Linked DNA regions of Homo sapiens: region 1 is linked to region 2. Evidence: fine-mapped expression QTL. Tissue or cell type: tibial nerve. Region 2 holds a variant in brackets; the other region holds the start of a gene. All regions are shown on one strand. Distances are from middle to middle.

Region 1 (8,000 bases), 400 kb before region 2:
CCCACATGCTCAGAAAAGAAGAGGGAGTAAACCAACCGGATTTGCTCAGGTTGCTGCCCTGGCCTGAGGCCCCACATCCCTCAGAACAACTTAAGATCAAGGCAGATAAGGTCCCTCTTTTCTTTCAGTTCCCTTACATGGCTGAAGAGACTTGAAGGACAGAACGTTTACAGCAGTTGTCTACGGCTGCCTCTGTGTTCTGAAGACCCCATGCACCCCTCGTCCCTTCTGGGTTGGGCCTGGCAGTCCCGTAGGCTGTCTTTCCCTTGCTTTGCAGATGCCAGCCCCAGAGTCCCACCTCCACCGTTGGTAAGGAAGCCCCTCACCCCTGCCTCTTTCAATTGTGGGAAAGTGAACTCCAGCCTCTCTCTCCTTCCTCATCCCAGATCAACAGCAGATGTTAGTATGACCCCCCTCCTGGCTCCCTCCGTGACTCCAGCTCTGCCCCCCACCTCCACCTCCACCTCCACCACTTGCTTGTTCATCTCTCACCTGGGCCAATGTCCAGCCTTCTAAGTGTTTCCCTTCTCCAAACTCTCCCTTCCCATTTGTCACCCTATAAGTAACCTGCCAGATTATTTTAAAGCACAGTGCTGAGGTCACACATGTACTGGCAACTTCTAATGCAAGACCGACTAGGGCTAGATCTCTTTGAGGCTCCCTGACCACACGTCCAACAACTCCTCCCTCAGTTCACAATTTCACTTCTCCTTATTTTCTCTTTCTCTTCCTGATCTGTTCTGTAAATTTAGTTTCTGCTGTGGAATTTGCTTGCTCCCTTCTTTAGTTCAAATCAGGCATTTGCTACCCCTCATGTCTGTGACACCGTGTTTATAGTTTATAAACCACTCTCAAAGCTATTTGTGGAGTACTGAGGTTAGCCCTGGACATGCTGTGGTGAGTAAAAACAGATGTGGCTGTGTTTCATGAATAAAGTCAACAAAATCTGTTGAGGACCCTGACCAAAAGTCATCTGTCCCAAAATCCTAAGTGGATTTGTGAGGAAAGATATTTTCCCATTGTCTCTCTTAACACTCTTCCCCCTGACTCCCAAACTATGGCCTCCCTGGGGTCATAGGAACAAAGTACAGAAGACAGAGAAGAAGACTGTGGCTTGCAGATTCTTAAAGAACTTTATTAACCTTGTGAGTGTCATAGAAGCAGCTACTGGGATGTTGCAAGCCCAGTGCAAACTGGTATATCTTGCTATATTGCAACATCTTGAATTTCCTTCCCTTTATATTAACTACCCACACATAATAAGCCACATCTATTATTTGTGTGAGCCTATGCTTTTTACTTTTATTTTAGAGCCTCTCGTTTCCTCATTTGTAATATGTGATCAGAAATCTGTCATTCTCGGCCTGCCGCGGTGGCTCACTGCTATAATCCCAGCATTTTGGGAGGCCAAGGCAGGCAGATCACTTGAGGTCAGGAGTTCAAGACCAGTGTGGCTAACATGGTAAAACCCTGTCTCTACTAAAAATACAAAAATTAGCTGGGCGTGGTGGCACATGCCTGTAGTCCCAGTTACTTGGGAGGCTGAGGCAGGAGAATCACTTGAACCAAGGAGGCATAGGTTGCAGTGAGCCGAGATCCCACCACTGCACTCCAGCCTGGGCCACAGAGTGAAACTCTGTCTCAAAAAAAAAAAATCTGTCATTCTCATAAGGTTGTTAGGATGATCAAACAAGATAAAGGTACATAAAAGAGCTCTATAGAATTATAATGTACAAGGCCGGGCACAGTGGCTCATGCCTGTAATCCCAGCACTTTGGGAGGCCGAGGTACGCGGATCAAAAGGTCAGGAGATCGAGATCATCCTGGCTAACACGGTGAAACCCCGTATCTACTAAAAATACAAAAAATTAGCCAGGCGTAGCAGCGTGCACCTGTAGTCCCAGCTGCTGGGGAGGCTGAGGCAAGAGAATGGCGTGAACCCGGGAAGCGGAGCTTGCAGTGAGCTGAGATCACGCCACACTGTACTCCAGCCTGGGCGACAGAGCAAGACTCTGTCTCAAAACAAACAAACAAACAAACAAACAAAAAGAATTATAATGTACAACATAAACGTATTTTATTTATTCTTTTTTTTTTTTTTTTTTTGAGACGGAGTTTCACTCTTGTCACCCAAGCTGGAGTGCAATGGCACAATCTTGGCTCACCACAACCTCCACCTCCTGGGTTCAAGTGATTCTCCTGCCTCAGCCTCCCAAGTAGCTGGGATTACAGGCGCCTGTCACCACGCCCAACTAACTTTTGTATTTTTAGTAGAGACAGGGTCTCGCCCTGTTGGCCAGGCTGGTCTTGAACTCCTGATCTTGGGTGATCCACCCCCTCGGCCTCCCAAAGTGCTGGGATTACAGGAATGAGCCACCACGCCCGGCTACTTTCTTCTTTAAATCAATTATATGGCCATTATTTATTTCATAAATAGGCATTCAGTGACTTTGAAATATTATGGTCCAGATAGAGACAACAGGGTTGTACAACAGAAATATGTAGGTCAAAATTTTAAATATTCTAGTAGTGACACTAAAAAATATAATAGATTGGCAAAATTTAGTAATCTATAATCTTGATCTACTACATCCAGAATGTTATTTCAACATGTGATTCATATAATAGTGACTAATGAGGTATCTTACACTCTTTTTTTGTAGTAAGTCTTTGAAATCCTGTGTGTATTCTACATTGACGGGACATCTCATTTTGGACTAACCACATTTCAAGTGCTCAGTATTCACATATGGATACTGTGCAGGACAGCACACACTAATTGGTAATGTAAATACAAGTTAGTTAAGATCTGTGAAGTACTTTATGGTTTCCAAAACTCTTTTGGCATTTAAATCTTGCGTCAGCCCCAGCAGGTAGATGTTTATCATTTCCATTTTGTAGAGGAGAGGCTGCAGCAATTACCTGTAAGTCACCCAAGCTCATCCAGCTAGTAAATGGTGAACTCAATTCTTGTCTTAAACCTGGGCACTTTCCCTTTTGCTTGCTTGCCTAAACAAGCAATACAAAGACAAACTTAATATTTATACACATACGTCCCATGGCTCATTGCAGTAGTACAGGACAGAAACAATTATTTCAAAATCCACCTACAATCTAGTCTCCAAAAATCCTGCCCAGTTTAATTGCACCACAATCTACTAACTGTAATTCTAAAAATGTGTATGTTGGATAATCTTCCAGCTCTAAAGTGCTGTGAATTAAAAAAATGCCATAGGCAGGCATAAAAAAATCCTACCCTCTATTATATTCTCCATCTGATATAGAATATATGATATATATTCTATAAATGAATACATGATACAGAGTCTATCATGTAGTGATTTACTTTTTACTTTTGTGAATTACAACGTGGTAGGGTAGGAAATGAGAAAGCTTAAAAAGCCTAATTTTCTCACTAAAGCATAACCAGACACAGCAGCCTATTAGGGGTTTCTCCAGAAGATGGCAGGCAGTCAAGGGGGACAGAGTTCGACCCGCGACAGGCCAACTGATTTCCCCAAAAAGATGCCAAGGGCAGCTAACCGCCCTCCTGGCCCGCGAAGCTGCTCCTTGAGGGCCCAAAACTTCCCGGAGGAGCCAGAGGAGGCCCTCAGGAGCCACAGCTCTCCCTGACTTGGCCTGTATTTGCACCCCTAGGGATCCCATTCCCTTTCCCGACGCAGCGCAAGGAAGGGGAGCGGAATGGGGGCTGAAAGGCAATAAAAAACTTGTAAAGCCGTATCTGCTAGTTCTCCCAGTGGGCTATGTCCCTGCAAATATCCTCCACAAGAAGTAAACTGGGTGGGTAGGAAGAGGTGAAGGCTCCCTCCTCAGGGCTGCCGGGACCGCCTCGAGGGCTTGTCTGTTTAGGTCCCAATTCCTCCCGGATCCGTACATTCACACGAGCGCAGGGCAACAATCTGAGCGAGTGTTCGTGTGTGCCCGTGTGACTCGCCATCGCGTGGCAGATGTTCAGTAGAACATTACAGTAATTTCTGTTACAGGTCCATGGGCGCAGGTCCCTGAGCCCACAGCTTCGCGGGGGTCTGGCCGAGCATGCGTCACAACCTACGCGGCCAAGAGCAGTGCGCACGCGCAACCTAACGCGGGACTGCCAGCAACTTCCGGGCGTTTACAGGCAGGCAGGTCAGTGATGTGTCCTAAGGGTCCGACCGACCTAGATACCCCTCTTTGATTCCTCCTCTTGGGATTAGTGTCCATCTCTGGAAGCAGGATCCAGGAGGACGGGAGGGGCCGCTGCGGACCGCAGTCGCTCCACCTGGAGGAGACACCAGAAGGAAGACAGCCTGAGGGACGCAGCCATCCCCGGCTCCTACCGGCGCCCCGCCCCGCGCATGCGCACGCGCACAGGGAGTCAGCTGGCTGCGCGGGAGGTCACGGGAAGTGGGGCGGTGCCCAGACAGCTGGAGGGAAGGAGGTGTCAGGCGGGGAGAGACGCAAACGGCGGGACCAGCAGCGACGGTAGCAGCAGCATGGCCGCGATCTATGGGGGTGTAGAGGGGTGAGTGCGGCCCGGCGGAGGGAGCCTGGGCCCGAAGGCGGGGCGGAAGGCCGTGGCCAGCCTGGCAAGCTGGTGGCCTTGATCCTCGGCGTCCGGGCACTTTGGGCGGCGGGACCTTGCGGTGAAGAGGTGTGTGCACGCGCAGGGGCGCCCTGGAGCGCACAGCTGTATGCCTTACGGGGACTCTGCCTGTGCAACAGCCACACCCCGGGTTGGGGATCCTTTGTGTTTCTTGGCGGAACCACGCCCCTTTCTTCCACGAAACACCCACTCCGCTGTCTTCAGCTGGAGAAGCAGCTCCTTTTTCCTATTCCTGACCTCGGACAGAGTTTTGCAGAACAGGTGTCAGGTGTGAAATTGCTGAGCGCGGGCAGGGTGGGGAGTGGGAGTGGGGAGAAGCGGGACAAAGATCTTGGCTGAGGTTATCCGGGAGCTGGAGCAGCTGCGAGCCAGAGTACTAGGTTGTCCTGATGTCTGAAAACCGCTCCATCCCTGTTGGCCTTCCATGCTGCTTTCACTAGATTGCATTTTTCTGCTCAGAAGCTTGTTTACTGAACTTTTTGTAATAGCTCTGCCCCTGGGTATGACCATGGACAAGATATTTACCCTCCCTGGGCTACAGTTACCGTATGTGCAAAGTGAGGATAGGGATAAATAAGATCGCTATGTCCCTGCCAGTGGCAACATTCTGTGAATCTGAGTTTGTCAAATCAGGGAATAATGGGGGTCGCTGGCCTCTCAGCCAGGGCACTGTACTTTCGAATCTGTGATTGTTTTCACTTCTCTGGCAGCCACACCCCACTGCTGATTCACAGACCCCAAAGTCTTTTCACATGAATTGTTAGGAATGATCTTTCCCATCCTGTATTTGTAGCACTTAAAAAAAACAGTATAGGAGTCTGCATTCATCCTTGTTATAGTCATCTGTAAGATATGACCCGTTTCTTCCAGTTCGTCAAGACATGCTTTTGGATGTGGAATCTGCCACCTCATGTATTAACTACCCCCTTGAAATTTCATGTCCTCTTTGAGTTTGATGAGCGGTCTTCAGTGTCTTCTTCTGCCATTCCTAAAAGTAATGATCAATAAAGAAACATATATCCCATCACCACAGATCTCCCTGTGAACTACTGTGACCCCCAGTAATCAACATTTGAAGGTTTAGTTGCTTAAGTATGTATGAAGTCACCCTGCCATCTGGTCAGCATTTCTAGCAAAGGTGTCTTGAAGACCTTGGCAGCTGGATCTTGAAATGCAGTCTTTAGCTATTGTGAGGGAAGCAGAGAGATGTGCCATTTTTCTTAGGAGTGTTTGCTGAGCATTGCCTGTGCCAGCTCCTGTGCTCGTTCTGAGAGGGTAAGTAAGTGATCAGGAGCTTGACCCAGTGGAGCTTGAAGTCTAGTGAGAGGCGGACACAAAGCGTCTGAACACACACTTCATACAGAGGAGACTTTAATAACTTTGGAGGCACTATGAAGGTTTAACTAACGGAGACTTAACTAATTCGTTGGGGTGGGCCACACCTCAGAAAAGGTTTCGAGGACTAGGTGAAGCGTAAGTAGAGTCTTGCAGGATAAGGAGGACATCCCCAAGGGAAGAGGAGTGAGAATTATGTTTCAGTTAAAGAGCACTCAAACACTGAACCACAGAGGCGGGTTTGGGAGTGGTGATTGAGTTTGTCGAAGCTGTCTCCTCCATCATACTGGGCTCTGCCAGTGTGGACAGCACAAGCTTAGCTCTCTCTGTGGGTTTTTCCGAGCAAGATCAAGTGCCCTCTTGTGTTCTGTAGGGGAGGCACACGATCCGAGGTCCTTTTAGTCTCAGAGGATGGGAAGATCCTGGCAGAAGCAGATGGACTGAGCACAAACCACTGGGTAAAAACCACACTGAGGGGATCAGAGGGCTTGGTTCTGATTTTATTCTCTGTAATTCCTGTTGAGGTGGTGGCTGGGACTCACAGAGCAGCCTGTGGGGGCAACATAGCTTCTGTAAGCCTTTGTAACTCCTTCTTCCCTTGATTGGGGCCAGCTGATCGGGACAGACAAGTGTGTGGAGAGGATCAATGAGATGGTGAACAGGGCCAAACGGAAAGCAGGGGTGGATCCTCTGGTACCGCTGCGAAGCTTGGTGAGTCTGGGGCGGAGCCTGGGAATTCAGCCATCTGTGACACTGAGACAGCTAGCAAGTTTGGACTAGATGAGTTTGATGACTGCAGAGGGAAAGACCTCCAAGACTTAGTCCCTGGTGTCAAAACTGTCATAATCTCACCCAGTCTCATGGCTTCAGTTGCCACCTACAAACTACAAATGTGTTGGAAGAGCACAGGGCTTTGGAGAGCTGCTGAGACCTTGGTTTGAATCCCAGCTTTGCTGCTCAGTATCTGCGTAACCCTGTGTAGGTTACTCACCTTCTCTAAGCCTCAGTTTCCTCATTTGGAAAATGTGAATAGTAGCTACCTCAGAGTTGTTGGGAAAGTAAAATGGCATGATACATTGCAAAGTGGTTAGTATAGAGCCTGACCCATAAGCACTCATTAAATGTTAGCTATTATTTACTCCTGGTTCAGATCTTTCTCCCAAGTTGCGGTAGCTCCAGCTACTCCCTGGACATATATGTGAGATGTTCTGCAGACACAGGCAAACCTCGTGTATACCAAACCAAGCTTACCTCTCTCCATCTCCCCTCACCTTGCCCCGCTGCCTGATCTTTCTGTTAAGAGCACTACTGCCCTTCCAAGCTCCAAAGCTGGCATTGTTGAATCCCCTCTTTCTTCTGTCCATCCCCAGTCCAGGTTGTTCTTATAACCACAGCCTTCTGAGGGGTCATTGTGTGGGGAGAAAGGAGGACTGGGGCTGGGTGAACAGGGTATGGCCAGATGGGGAGAACAGGAATCAGGCATCAGGAGGGGGCGGGGGTTGAGAAAAGAGCTGGGGCTGGGGCTCTGCACACTCGCTCACCTCCCGCGTGGCCTAGGGCCTATCTCTGAGCGGTGGGGACCAGGAGGACGCGGGGAGGATCCTGATCGAGGAGCTGAGGGACCGATTTCCCTACCTGAGTGAAAGCTACTTAATCACCACCGATGCCGCCGGCTCCATCGCCACAGCTACACCGGATGGTGAGGAAGTGGAGGGAGGGGTGAGAGTGAGAACTGGTTTTTTTGGGAAAGCCCCTTAGATATAGCTGACAAAACTTGTTCTGCAAATATCCAGAAGGCAGCCACTCTTATATTCCCCTCAACTCTTTAAGTAGTTTAAGTCTCTGCCAGAGCAAGGACCAGGCAGCAGGAGGAAGGGCAAGAAAGGTCTCTTGATGGGAATCCAGGAGTGGGGTCAAACATAACTCCCCTGCAGATGAGGGACCACCTGGGGGCGGTGTAGTGAGGAAGGCAGGCTGGGGAAGCTGTCAGTGCTGAGGAGGAAGTGGGGTGGCCTTGTGATAGTGTAAAGAGTTTTGGTGTCATGGGATTGGTGTTTGAATC
Region 2 (8,260 bases):
GTGGGAGGGGGATTTGCAGTTTTGGTGACCTGGTGGGGTTGAAGGTGTCACTGGGTGGGTTCAAGAGAGAATGGAGGAGGGAGATTGGAGACAGAAAGTATGGAGAGCTCCTTCAAAGGGCATTGTTGTGAAAAGGGAGAAATGACCAGTAGCTGAAGGGGATGTGGGGTCAACGGTGTGCTTTCTTGAGAGCAATAACATCATGCTTGTGTGCCGATGGGATGATCCGGTAAACAGGGGAACTTGGTAAGGCAAGAGAGTGAGAGAATCACTGCAGGCTCACCACTGAATGGGCGAGAGGGGATGGGGTCTATGCCCAAGTGTCCAGTTGTTACCAGTGGGGAGTACGGGTGATTCATTTGTAGGAACAGGAGAGAACTCACAGGATTTGGGCACAGATGCCGAGGGCGGGCGTTAGAAGGAGACTGGGGACCTGAAGAAGTTCTCTGCTCCGTAAAGAGGAAGCAAACTGAGAGTGAGGTTGGGCGATGGGGTGTCCTAGGGGCATCCGGGAGACAGGGAGACAAGACATATAGTATGATTGCCCCCAGCAGTGAGGGCTCGCTTGAGTTAAGGGTCATGACTACAAAAGGCACCACTCAGGCCGGCTGTGTTACTCTCCAACACAGCACTGGTTGGGGGCAGGTGTGGAGGAGGCGGAGTTGGATTCGCCAGGGTTATGGCTTAGCCCTGTGAGAATGCTGTATCCCTCAAAATAAGAGAGGGGAAAGGGAGTTGAGATTTTGCGCAGCAGTGCGTTTAGGCTGAGTGAGCAGGTTGGTTAGTGAGGACTTGGGCGGTGGGAAGACGGACAGTGCCCTGACAGGGGCTAGGTGCTGGAGTGCTGGGGGATAGAAGTGCGAAGCCAGGGCCCCTGTGTCAAGAAGTTCATACGCTGGAAAGGAACCAGACATAATAAGCGAAACGACTGTCACCGTTCATGGCTTACACCTTGAACAGCTTTCCACTGTGGAGACTAGGGAGTGTAGAGATTGTTGGGGATGGGGGACTTGCAGGGGACAGAATGGGCCGCAGCTGGACCCTAGTTCTCCAGGGAACGCAGTATGATTTGAATACAGATCTCTGCCTCCAGAGATGAGTGACTCGACACCGCTGCGGAGAAGGCTCCGAGGAGGGTTGGTGGGGACTCGAACCTCGGAGTCTCTCCCGACCCGGGGGTCCCAGCAAACCAGAACGGCCACCTAGACAGCCTGCGGACGGGAGAGGACCGGCTCCCTGGCGCAGATCATGGGGCAGGTGGAGAGAGGCGAGAGGCAATGAGGCGGGGGGCTCGGGGTGCACGGCACGCTCCGCACACTCCCCCTTCAGCGCTCACTCAGACTTGGTTTCCCCGAAGACACACTCTCGTCCCCGCCGCTGATTGCCCACTCCTTCCGCCTGCACTCCTGCCTCCTTCTCACCCTTTCGTCGAGCGCACAGGGCGGCTGCCAAGTCGGCACCGGTGCGCACCGGGCCCGGGATCCCTGGCTGGTGTGGAGCCTTGGTCACCGGAGGCCCCCGCGGAGCAGGCCCCACGGCGCCTTGTGCGCTCTCGGAGGCCGAGCTGCGCGCCCGCGTCAGCGGCGCCTCGTTCCTGGCCGGGAGCTGGGACCCGCGGAGCTAGGGACCAGCACCCCCACAGGCGCCCGTCTGACCCCTGTCCCTCCCCGCCCGCCGCGGGCAGGGCGGATCTGGGTAGGGGCCGGAGGGGGAGGGTCCGCCCAGCGGGTGTCCGGTGTCCTCCCTGCAGCCTCTCCCAGGCATTGGTCACTTCTCCGCGGAGGAGCAGCGAAGGCGACAGCTCTCTTGGCGCGGCTGCCTGGGAGCCGGGCGCTTGCTGGGTGGGTGCTCGGGCCCGGTGCTCCCGCTCCCGCCCTGACTGCGCGCCTGTGTGCCGCCGGGGCTGCCCAGCCATGCTGTGCTGCCTGCTGGTGAGGGCCAGCAACCTCCCCAGTGCGAAGAAGGACCGGCGCAGCGACCCTGTCGCAAGCCTGACTTTCCGAGGTGAGAGCCCCGTGGCTGCCGCGCCCATGCTCGGGTGCTACCCGACTCTCGGCGCTCACTGGCGGGTCTGAAGCCCCTGCTCCGGAGCTAACCCTAGTCCAGGCCACAGTTTCTCCCTTTGTCAGCAGGGACGGAAATCCCAGCCCCGACTTCTGCAGGGGGGCGATGAGGAATAAGCAGAGCACAATAAATGCCACAGGGCTTTGAAAAATTGGAAAAGCGAAAGTGCCGTAGGTCAGCGGTTATCACTTTTCTAAGACTGACACCCAGAGGAAATAAAGTCCGAGCTTTTACTGGGTAGTGGGGATAAGGGTAAGTTGGAAGATGGGTGCAGAAGGTAGAGAGGAATCAGGGCCTCTGAAAAACGGGGCGTGTAGATGATGTGCTTTGAAAGTTGTGTCTTTTTTCATTCATTCATTCATTCATTCACCCATCTTTATCCAACATTGGCTGTATTGAATCTGCCCCGTCTTAATCAGTAGGAAAAGGAACAGAATAGGATGGAAATGGCCTTGACACAAGGAGTTTTGAGGAATGTCAAGGATATTTTCTCTAAATTCAAGAAGCTAAGTCCCTACATGTAGTGCTTAGAATACATACAGGTATTTCTGTGTGGGGCAGCAGAGAAATCACACACACACTCCTCTTCTCACCAGGCGTCCTGAACCCCCTCCCCCAACCCCTCCAAGGCAGATTCCCACTGGAGCGGGTGTCTCAGGAGGGGAAAGGGAAGAGGAAGGATCTGTCAAAATTAAGAGAAGGAACAATAGCTGTGAGTCAGGACCCCAGTTCTGCAGAGAAAGATAAATCAGGAGAGGAAAGAGGGTTTCCACTTAGCCAGGAGCCATACCCTGTAGCTTTGTGGAATCGATAATAATAATAATAAAAATCTACGTATCAGAAAAGATAGTCAAATGAAGAAGGAAGAGTAGCTGGTGTTTTCATAAGCCTCCTTCAGTGCAGGCACCAAGGGAACTCTTTTCAGTCTGACCCATGATCTGAATCATATCTCCAAGCACCCCCAAGATAATGATAGATGAAAGACATGATTTGGCAAAGGGAGATTTATGTGTAGCTTTTATTCTTTGCTGTGGGACAAGTTATATGTATTCCTCTTTTGAAAGATGTGATTTGAAACGTTTAAGAAAATTTCACTATTTTCATTGATTGGTGACATGCCTGGGAGTTCACTATGCAAGAGCAACTTCAAGACAAAGTCTTTCCTTCTCCAGTGTCCACCTGATGCTGCCTAAGGCTTTGCTATGCAGAAATTGCGGTGTCACCATTGGCTGGAAAAGAAATTCCCTAAGGACACTGGGCAGGGCACACATTAGCATAGGGCTCTGGATGCTCTAACACTCGTTTGGGTCTGCTCACAGCTCTTTCCCTTGTCCTGTAACAGTCCTGTGGTGGCTACCAATGTCTCCATTCTGCAAATAAGGAAATTGAAACCCAGGGAAGTTAAATGTGTTCAGGTCAGTGGTCATGGCAGGGAGCTACCAGCGCTTGGAGTGGGTATTGCCCTTGAGTCGGGAAGATGACCAAATCCCTTGAGGCCCCTCTTTACTATTGCCCTCGCCCAAGTACCCCGAACACGTGCAGCTGCTATCTCCCCCCAGATCTCTGTATTCCTTCTTTGTAATGCCTTACTATTTATTTGCACTGATGATCTCCTCGGAAAACAGAAATACCATACAATAGAATGTAACATCTCCAACCGTTTCAAGTCTATTTGTATTTCAAAGCCCAGGGCAATGCCACCTTCTCCAGGAGGACACCCTGGATCCCCCTGGCTCTCAAGAGTCTCTCCTCTCTGGATGACAAGCAGCAGCACCTTGCTAGGGATGCTAGCACCCTCGCCCTGACTGGCCTGTGCTCAGCTCCATGCTTAGGTGCCTTGAGAGCAGTGACCTGTCCTATTTGTTCATTGGTTTGTCCCAGTGCTGAGCACAAGTAGGTGCTCTCTAGTGTTTGTGCGCTTTCTGGCCCAGCCTCTAGCCATCCTCCAGGTGTGCCTGGGAGCTTCATTTAGTCTGGGACATGGTCCGCTCACTTGATTGTTCCTGAGAATCACTTGTAGAACGTGTTTGAGAAACAGATTCCAGAGTCCCCATCTGTAGAGGTTCCGATGCAGCAGGTCTGGAAGGTGACCTAAGAATCAGCACTTAACAAATACCCGATGCAGGTTATTTTGGAACCGCATCTTGGGAAAAATGGGTCTGAGATGTGATGGCAGGTGAAATTAATGCGCTCCCCATTGCGGGAGCATTCACTGGGGAGTTTGGGGCTGAGTTGATGCCTAAGGAGGGAAACCGTTAGAACCAGGTTCAGAACTTACAGAGCATGTAGGCTGGGGGGACTCAACTCTGGCTGCAGGTCAACATTGTGTGTGGGAGCTTCACCAAAGACCACTGCCAACCTCCCTGCCTGCCTTTTCTGAAGCCAGATCCCTTCCGGTGGGGCCCCAGGCATAGGTGTTGTTTCTGTCAAATTTCCAGGTGTTTTGAATGTGCAGTCAGGGTTGAGAACCACTGAGCCCAGCTCCTCATGGCACAGATGGGACAGTGGCCTGCTTGCAGAGAAGCCAGCCTGCACTGTGTGTTTGGCTCCTACAGGCAGCCTGAAATGTATGGGGCTGGGCTGGCCCCACTTTCCTTG[C/A]AGTTGTTCCCTGTCTCGGATGTAATTTCAGGACCTGCCTCCCAAAATAGACTATGAGCTCTGGGAGGCTGGACTCTGAGGGCAATTTTTTGGCTTCCCTGTCTAAGCACCTCTATTAATAGTAGAGGCTACTAATGAATACTTCTCATTCTTTTGTTTTTCTATTAATTAATTCATTAACTAAAACTACCATGAGTAACTGGGCCATAGTAGATATTTTTGACTGATTGTGTCAACGAGCAGCTTAATTTCCTATAGCATTTAATTGTCTGTACTTCTTTTCTGCCCTGCCCATTTTCCATTCCTTAATGTGATTATTTATATCCCTCTATTCATGCAGTTAGTTCATTGAACAAATATTTACTGAGTACCTACTACGTGCCTGGTGCTTTTCTAGGTGCTTGGATGCATACAAGAACAAAACCAGATCCCTACTGCTTTAAAGCTGAAACATCTTATTTCCTTGAAGGCCAGATCTGCTGCGTCCCCACTTGGTGAATTTCTGCCCTGTGTCATCAGCCAGGAACCCAGAAGTCATTACTGACACTTCCCTCTCTCTCATCCTGTCAGGGCGTCTCCTCCTCCAGCCTCCCCCTCCCACCTCTTCTCTTCTTGATCTCCTGGGGGTCTCTAGATTTGGGGCAGGAGTTGGGGGATCTTATAGAACTAGTTGGAGGTGGATTCCTGTCGTCAGGGAACACTCTTAACTCACCTATGTAGGGAAAGTGGGCTGAAGGCCCCGGACTCTCTGAACCTAGCTGTTTACATATTACAAATGACTTAAAATATTGAAAACAGCGGCCAGGCGTGGTGGCTCACGCCTGTAATCCCAGCAATTTGGGAGGCCAAGGCGGGTGGATCATGAGGTCAGGAGATCGAGACAATCCTGGCTAACATGGTGAAACCCTGTCTCTACTAAAAATACAAAAAAAATTAGCCGGGTGTGGTGGTGGGTGCCTGTAGTCCCAGCTACTCGGGAGGCTGAGGCAGGAGAATGGCATGAACCCAGGAGACGGAGGTTGCAGTGAGCCAAGATTGAGCCACTGCACTCCAGCCTGGGTGACAGAGTGAGACTCCATCTCAAAAAAAAAAAAAAAAAAAAGAAAAGAGCTTTCTCTTCTCTTCCTTCTTTCCTTCCTTCCTTCTTTCCTTCCTTCCTTCCTTCCTTCCTTCCTTCCTTCCTTCCTTCCTTCATTCCTTCCTTCTTTTTTTTTTTTGAAATGGACTTTCACTCTTATTACCCAGGCTGGAGTGCAATGGCACGTTGTCGGCTCATTGCAACCGCCGCCTCCCAGGTTCGAGTGATTCTCCTGCCTCAGCCTCCCGAGTAGCTGGGATTACAGGCACCTGCAACCATGCCTGGCTAATTTTTATTTTTATTTTTAGTAGAGATGGGGTTTCACCATGTTGCCCAGGCTGGTCTCAAACTCCTGACATCAGTCAATCCACCCACCTTGGCCTCCCAAAGTGCTTGGATTACAGGTGTCAGCCACCCCGCCTAGCCTGTTTTCTTTTTATAAACATAATATGTACTTGCTGTTAAAAATGACAAACTACAGAAAGGCCATGAGGCAAGAGTAAAAAATAGCCCCAAATCCTGCCACTTTGAATTAACTTGTTAACAATTTGACACATTTCCTCCAAGATTTTTTTTCTTAAAAATTTTAGTTATAAAATTTAACATACAAGGAAAGTGCAGAAGATATAAATATATGATTTAATACAGTAGTTCTCAACTGGGGGCAGTTTTTTCCTCAGATGACATTTGCCAATGTCTGGAGACATTTTGGGTTGTTGCCACAGGGGTTGGGGGCACAGGGTGTTTATCTACAGGGTAGAGGCTGAGGATGCTGCTAGACATTCCACAGTGCAAGGGGAGGTCCCCCACACCAACCACAGAGTGATTCAGCCCACATAGTAATCATGCCACGGTTGAGAATAAATATGTGTGTGAAGAGAATAACTATGTAATATCACCCAGGTCAAACAGGTCAAGAAATAGCACCTGGCCAGCCCCATTTCTCCACCAGAAGTAATCCCATCATAGATTTTTTTTTTCCCAAATGTTTGCACATTTGCTGAAAAATAAACCAGGGGGCCGGGTGTGGTGGCTCACGCCTGTAATCCCAGCACTTTGGGAGGCTGAGGTGGGCGGATTGCTTGAGGCCAGGAGTTCCAGGCCAGCCAACAGGGTGAAACCCTGTCTCTACTGAAAAATACAAAAATTAGCCAGGCATGGTGGTGTGTGCCTGTAATCCCAGCTACTTGAGGGGCAGAGGCACAAGAATCGCTTGAACCCAGGAGGTGGAGGCTGCAGTGAGCCGAGATCTCACCACTGCTCTCCAGCCTGGATGACAGAATGAGACTCAGTCTCAAAAACATCAATTAATTAATTAAAAAAAAATCCAGGGTCATTTTTTATGTCAGTAAGTATTCTTCTATAACACCTTTATAAATATCTGCGTAATATTTTCTTATATGGATGCACCATCATTAATTTACTCAACCCCCTACTGATGAATATTTAGGTTATATAAGTGTTTATATTTATATCCAGTGCTTAAATTATACAGTCACTGTGAGGCATATTCTGGTGACTACATCTTTGGCCACATATTTAATTATTTCCTTTGGGTAAATACCAGAAGATGAATTGCTATGTCAGAGGTTATAGACAGATTTAATGCGTTGCTGCATTTCCCAAATTGTTCTTGAAGTCTGTATCAACTTTATCCTCCTGTCAGCCAAGTATGAGGGCTTATTTTTCTAATAATCCTGCTAACACACAGCATTGTCCTGTAAATCTTTGACACTTTCTTTCTTTTTTTTCTTTTTGACAGAGTCTCATTCTGTCGCCCAGGCTGGAGTGGAGTGGCGCGATCTCGGCTCACTGCAAGCTCTGCCTCCCGGGTTCACGCCATTCTCCTGCCTCAGCCTCCCAAGTAGCTGGGACTACAGGCGTCCACCACCACGCCAGGCTAATTTTTTGTATTTTTAGTAGAGACGGGGTTTCACCATGTTAGCCAGGATGGTCTGGATCTCCTGACTTCGTGATCCACCCGCCTTGGCCTCCCAAAGTGCTGGGATTACAGGCGTGAGCCACCGCGCCAAGCCAACACTTTCTTAAGGTTCAAATAGTATTTGTGATACTTCATTGTTATCACCTATTCGTATTTATTCTTACTGAATTACTTTTTCATTTGCCCATGGTGGAGCATGTTTGTCTTTTTCTTCATTAGTTGCAAGTGCTCTTTATGTATTGAGAATGTTACCGTTTTTGTCATAGATGTTTCTAGTATCTTCTCCAGTTCTGTTTGTTTTTCTTTAATTGGCAAGTAAAAATTATATGTAAATATCTTCCCCAGTTCTAATGTAAATATCTTCCCCAGGCCTTCTGAGTTTAAAGACTACTCTTCTTGAAGTGCATTTCACCCTGGCTCCCTCCCTTTTTGGCCACTTCTGTGGTTCCAGCTAGGATTTAGGAAGGTGGGGTGGAGGGTGGTTGACGGGGAGAGGAGCAGTGCTCTGCTGATGATAGGGGAGACAGCTGCCCAGTTCTTGGGGTGTCCAGGCCTGAGAACACCATGGCAGGGCAGGT

What was found. PIP is the estimated chance that this variant, and not a neighbour inherited with it, causes the effect.
Region 1: it holds the start of NAGK, and the variant in region 2 is fine-mapped to the expression of NAGK in tibial nerve (GTEx, PIP above 0.99).

Annotation. Positions count from the first base shown.
Region 1 is chr2:71,064,191-71,072,190 of GRCh38, forward strand. NAGK (N-acetylglucosamine kinase) reads left to right here and starts at 4,458. Exons shown (of 10, transcript NM_017567.6): 1 at 4,458-4,522; 2 at 6,312-6,396; 3 at 6,551-6,649; 4 at 7,496-7,637. The coding sequence starts at 4,494. RefSeq lists a silencer at 4,684-4,743.
Region 2 is chr2:71,464,930-71,473,189 of GRCh38, forward strand. It overlaps DYSF (dysferlin), which reads left to right and starts at 1,770. Exons shown (of 56, transcript NM_001130987.2): 1 at 1,770-2,004. The coding sequence starts at 1,914. The variant C/A (reference allele first, on the strand shown) is at 4,663.